Regions from separate parts of the Homo sapiens genome. Here region 2 is linked to region 1. A link means that fine-mapping ties the variant in region 1 to the expression of a gene that starts in the linked region. Tissue or cell type: skeletal muscle. Region 1 holds a variant in brackets; the other region holds the start of a gene. All regions are shown on one strand. Distances are from middle to middle.

Region 1 (2,917 bases):
GAGTAGCCAACCTCTATCATGACCCTCAACGGCTTCTGCACATGTATAGCATTTATGACAATGGGTTGGTATCGTTTATATTCTTAGAAATTAGAAAGATTTAACTCCACAATACAAAAATGACCAAATAAGCAACAAGCACATGAGTATCTGCTCCCTGTTAGTCCCTCACATACTGAATAGGGCTGACCTGTATACCAAGAAAATATTGCAGAAATGACAGTGACATTTCTGAGGACAGGCTATAAAAGGTTATCTTCTACCTCACTCTCTTCTGATTACTCATTCTGGTGAAGCTGTCATGTCATGAGGTCACCCAAGCAGCCCCATGGAGAAGTCCAAATGGTAAAGAACTGAATCCTCCAGCTCTGGTTAAGCTTCAGATGACTATAACCCCAGCAGCCATTTTTAACTGCAACCTCATGAGAGATGCTGAGCCAAAATCACCCAGCTAAACCATTCCGGGATATCTGTCTAAAACTGTATGAGATAATTAACTTTTGTTGTCTAAGTATCTATGTTTTGGGATAATAGTTACACAGTAATAAATAATACACATAGTTTTGATTTTAGAAACATGTAAGGGATTTTAGAAACATGTAAGTTTTTTCTAATGGCTATTAGAAAAAACGACTCAAGACACATTAACAATGCAAAGTGTGAACCTTGTTAGGCCCCTCATTTGAACAAGTCAATTTAACAAACGAATCTTGAAACAATTAGGGAAATTCAAACACAGACTAGCACACGTTGACATTAAGAATCACTGTTGAGGTTGCAGGTGAGCTGTAATCAAGCCAGTACACTCCAACCTGGGCAACAGAGTGACACCCTGTCACAATTAAAAATAAAAAGAATCACTGTTAAGTAACAGCATGGTGGTTATATTAAAAAGAAGATTATCAGTTGGACATATATACTGAAATACCTGAGTATAATAAGCTGTTCATAATTTGATTTAAACTACTCCAGCAAATTAAAAGGGGTGCAGTGGGGAAAAAATGATGAAAAAAGAATGCCAAAATATTGGTAAGTGTTGAAGCCACATGACTACATGAAGAGTTGATTATTCTATGTATGTTTCAATATTTACATAATAAAGGCTACTCAGCTTTTCATTATATTGGCATATGATTTTAAAGATTTTAATTATATGCTTTTTCATTTTTTTAGGCTGTCAAACAGCAATATCTCCCGATCTCTGATGATTTTTAGCGTTCTTCTCCTTACCAGTTACATTTCTGGCAACATCACATAGTCTTCCTGTAACAGGCACTGGCTTTATATGAAAAAGAGTAA[C/T]ATTATCCCTTTTGGTTTTTTTTTAATGATGCTCAATATCTTGTTGATCCTTTTAACTGAAAAACATATTAAGACTACATTTATTTGGAATAAAATTCACAGTTCCAAAGTCCCTTTTATGGGAGTTAAGTAACAACTCAGAATTCTTAATTTTAGTATGGACTATTAACACATTGTAAGAGATTGCTATGTTAACAAATTATAAGTAATACATTTTATGTTGGTAATTCTGCTCAAATTATAACCAGTAGTTGATCTAAATAACTGACAATGTCAAAGACTCATTATACAACAAAAAGTAAAAGTAGCCTATAATTCATGCTGGGAATCTATAAATAACGACTATATTTATCTAAAGCTGTGCTCTTAAAATAATCACTAGCTACATGTGGCTATTGAGCACCTGAAATGTGGCTTGTTTGAAATGTGATATGTTGTTTGTTGTTTGAAGTGTTCCAAATCAGTGTCAAATCCCAGACTTCCAATACACAGTACCAAAAAAATTAACTTTTTAATAGTGAGTACACGTTGGATACATTAGGCTAAATAAAATTAATTTTACCTTTTCTTAAACATTTTTCTAATGCTGCTAAATAGAAAAACTACATGTGGCTTCTATCGTAATTCTTTTGGACAGCACTGATCTAGAATTAGATCAGTTATTAATAGTTTAAATGATGTCACATATTAATTGTACAATTTTCATACTGTATGTTTTAATGTAAGCTAACAGTTAATTGCAGCAAGGCATACAATACTACTCTAAAAATTAAATGCATATAAACAGTGTTAATCTGCTACCTCTGAAAAAAGGAATTTGGTTGCTGTGGACAGAGGTGGGAGAGAGAATTTTCACTGTATGTCCTTTCGCATTTTTAAAATTTTACTTATTTGAAAATGCTCAATTAAACACTTCATAGAATGTTTAGATATTGCTAGTAGCGCCTTAATTCCCATTTATTTATACATAAACAGCAAACATTATTTGGTACAATGATCCTTCCAACTGTCATTGTATCACAGTATACACTGCTTAAAATGGGATTTATTTAAAAACAAATCTTTAGTTCGCTTGATGTAGGCATTAAACTCTCATCATACCTATACTCTGCTTTTGTCCATTTCAGCTGACATCTGCTTTAGTTCTAGTTTGTTCTAGTTTTGGCAGTAGCATTTTGGTGCAGAGGAGGAGTTAATTAAAGTTGGTTGAGAAAAGGCTTAAGCAATAAGAAATTCTTCGCAAACCACTGATTCATCAGCAAAATGTCACCTGCTAGTCCATAATGACTGGTGTTCATCCAACAGACAACTCTGTGGATTTTTTTTTTTTTGGCTTTGTTTGTTTTTGAGACAGGGTCTCGTTCTGTTGCCCAGGCTGGAGTGCAGTGGAGTGATACAGCTCACTGCAGCCTAGACCACCCACTTCAATTCAACAATGCAAACAATCCTCCCACTTCAGCTTCCCAAGTAGCTGGAACTATAGGCACATGCCATAGCACCTGGCTAATTTTTTTAAATCTTTTTTTATTTTGTAGGGACAGGGTCTCACTATGTCACCCAGCCTAGTCTCAAACTCCTGGGCTCAAGTGATCCTCCTGGCTCGGCCTCCCAAAGTGCT
Region 2 (2,917 bases), 30 kb after region 1:
GCTTCTTTCCTAAAGCTGTCGTTTGCTCTTGCAGTCATCTCCCCAGAGTAAACACAAAAGTATCTCAAAAGTAAGTGTGCAACAAAACTTTCCCTTCAAGGGGAAATCCCAACCCAACATTACTTCACATACAGAATTCTGGTACTCATTTTCTCTTCCAAAGTAGAGACTGGTATTAACTAGTTCCTAGAACTGCCAGTAGGAGCCCTACGACAAGCTCTTCTCCCATCTTGTCCTTGCCCCGCCCCCTCTGAAGTCCAGAAATGACTCGGCTTCTAACTTGTATAATATAACCCTCTACCAGGTACACTTTTCTCAGCACTGGGAATAATCTGACACGCCCAAGGTCATATAAAAAGCCTGCCTCCTGAACCAGGTTCTAGGTTCGGCGGACAAACTTCTGGTTCTACTACCTCTAAGGGTAAGACCCTGCTCAATTTCAGAGGCTGTGGCTTAAGCACCTCCTGAGGGGAGCAGTTTCCTTCAAGAAATACTAAGCCAAGTCAACCTGTAATTATTCTAAAGAATGCCAAGAGGCCTCAAACCCTGCCTCAAAGGCAGTGCAGCAAGACGGTAAAGATTCTCACTACTAGCTATGTGATCTTAAGTCCTCCAAGGCTCACTTTCATCACATTCGAAATGAAAACAACCATATCTGAATTTGGAGGAATCCTTGTGATGATTAAATGAGACAGTGCATCCAAAATACTTACTGTAGTGTCCAGCAAAGCAAACTCTTAAAGTTAGCTAGAATCATCACTATAAACCAGGCTGGGCCTCCAGCCGGCGCTTGATTAAGCGCTGACTTAGCCAAGGAACTAGGCTCCGATTCTATGACCCCAATCAACTTATTCCCGTAGGCGCCACTCCACACCCTTCCGAGCTCCTTCGGGTATTGGGCGCCGGCCGCCCCAAACCTCCCAAAGCCCCTCTCCTCTCAATCCAAACGCTTGGAGGCAGGCTGCACCAAGGCATTAGCTGGCGCACTCCCCTCCCGGAGCCCCCCAGGCGCGCCTCCTGGCCACCGCAGCCAGGGGTTGCCTCTCTCCCCTCCCCCTCCGCGACCTCCCTTCCCCTCCCCCCATGCAAGGCCCCGCCCGCCCTCCCCCCCGGCCTCGTCCTCCCTCCCACCCCCTCCTCCCTCCCACCCCCTCCTCCCTCCAGCCCCTTCCCACAGTGCCTCCGACCCCAGCTGCCGCGCGGTTCGAACGAGGCCCTCCCAGCGCCTCCTAGTCTCCCGGCCTCCTCGGACAGAGCGCCCGCAACCCCCGTCTCCAGTGGCCATACCGGCTTGCGGAGGCCGCGGCCGCCGCCTCTCCGCAGGTCTCCGCTGAATGGGCGGACGCGAGGCCACTGGACTGGGGCGTCGCGGGGAGGCGGTGGTCACGGCCCCCTCGGTTGCCCTTCGCGACCGCCGCACCTCGCTCGCAGGCTCGCGCGGGCCCCGGCCAATCGCGCTGACCCAACAAGCCTAGCGAGAACTTGGGCTCTGTACGTGGCAGGTGGGGGAAGAACAGAGGCGGGAGCAAGAAAAAAAAAAATGTCCTTTCGCCCCTCCTTATTGCGCGTGGACATACCCAGGACGCATGCGCGACGGCGCGAGGCGCAGGGCTGGCTGGGTCCCGGCTGCCTAGGCCGAAGAGTCCCTGCTTTCTCACTGGATGACGGGATTTAGGAAGCGTGAGCTGCCCCGATGCACGCATGCGCGGGGCGTGACCACGCACTTCCGGTTTTCTCGAAAGCGGGTATTTCCGTTTCTCGCCAATGGGCGGGGCGTAGTGCGCTGTTCTAAACTTTTTGAGAGTTGGTTGCAGTAGACGTCTGTCCAACTTTAAGTGGTTTTTGTCGTTATTGTTGACCATTGTAGTAACAGCTGAAAAAGAAAAAACCTTTTCTTCTATAAATCCATTCATTCATTATTGGGAGCCTATGCTTTGCCAAGCCCGGTTCTAGGAATGGGGGTGAATCATTTTGTGAGCAAGGAGTTTCCAATTAAGCAGGGAAGACCTACAGCGTTTATGAGCAAGGAAAATCTGTAACTGTGTAAAGGACAAAAGCTGGGAAATTAAGGCTAAAGATTCCTGAGTGATTTTTAGAGGATAAGGCATTTGAGTGTGTCCTACGTACTCTTCCCTTCTCCCTTACCTGTTCAAATAGAAATACAGTATGAGTAAGTAGGAATTTATAGCCAAGGGGTGGAAGTCGGTCAGTGGATGGAAAATTACTAAGAGGAAATATCAGGGGCAAGGGAGATTCTGGCTAAACCAACACAACAGGATTCTAGACGAAGATAGGCCAGGATAGCAGACATCACCTGGGGGTGGTGGAGGATGAGGAACCCCATCAAGGGTGAGGGATTCTCACTACACTGCCTTAACAAGGTTCTTTGCTGAAACTGAGTTTTACAAGAAGATGCACAGATGGTCCTAGGAGAAGGCCCAGGAGCCCGAAGTTTGGCCAAACGGAGAATGTTTGTCACTTCTAAGGTGGAGACTAAGCTGATAAATAAAGCATTTAGACCCTACCTGGTCTCCAGTTGTTTACCAGTTATAAAAGAAAAACTTAAGCTGAATTAAATTTAAAGGAGTTTAATTGAGCAGTGAACGATTTCACGAATTGGGCAGCCCCCAGAATCACAGCAGATTAAGAGACTCCAGCAGAGCCACGTGGTGGAAGATTTATAGACAAAAAAAGGGAAATGAGGTACAGAAATTGGCAGTGAAGTACAGAAACAGCTGGATTGGTTACAGGTTGGCGTTGGCCTTATTTGAACACTTAGCAGTCTATGAGTGATTGAAGTGTGGCGGCTGGAATTGGCCAAGACTCGCTTATTGTAAGAGACGCATACTTCTAAGTTAGGTTTTCAATCTTGTCTGTTAAGCTAGGTTACAGTTCATCCACAAGGATTCAAGTATAG

What was found. PIP is the estimated chance that this variant, and not a neighbour inherited with it, causes the effect. A credible set is the group of variants that fine-mapping cannot tell apart.
Region 2: it holds the start of TFG, and the variant in region 1 is the best candidate, but not a certain one, in a credible set for the expression of TFG in skeletal muscle (GTEx, PIP 0.54).

Annotation. Positions count from the first base shown.
Region 1 is chr3:100,737,799-100,740,715 of GRCh38, reverse strand. The region is part of intron 6 of TFG (trafficking from ER to golgi regulator); the gene reads right to left. Among named protein-coding and RNA genes, the nearest start is that of TFG, 30 kb to the right of the region's middle. RefSeq lists an enhancer at 2,632-2,917. The variant C/T (reference allele first, on the strand shown) is at 1,300.
Region 2 is chr3:100,708,092-100,711,008 of GRCh38, reverse strand. TFG (trafficking from ER to golgi regulator) reads right to left here and starts at 1,515. Exons shown (of 8, transcript NM_006070.6): 1 at 1,288-1,515. RefSeq lists enhancers at 165-1,055, 1,056-1,947 and a silencer at 1,189-1,418.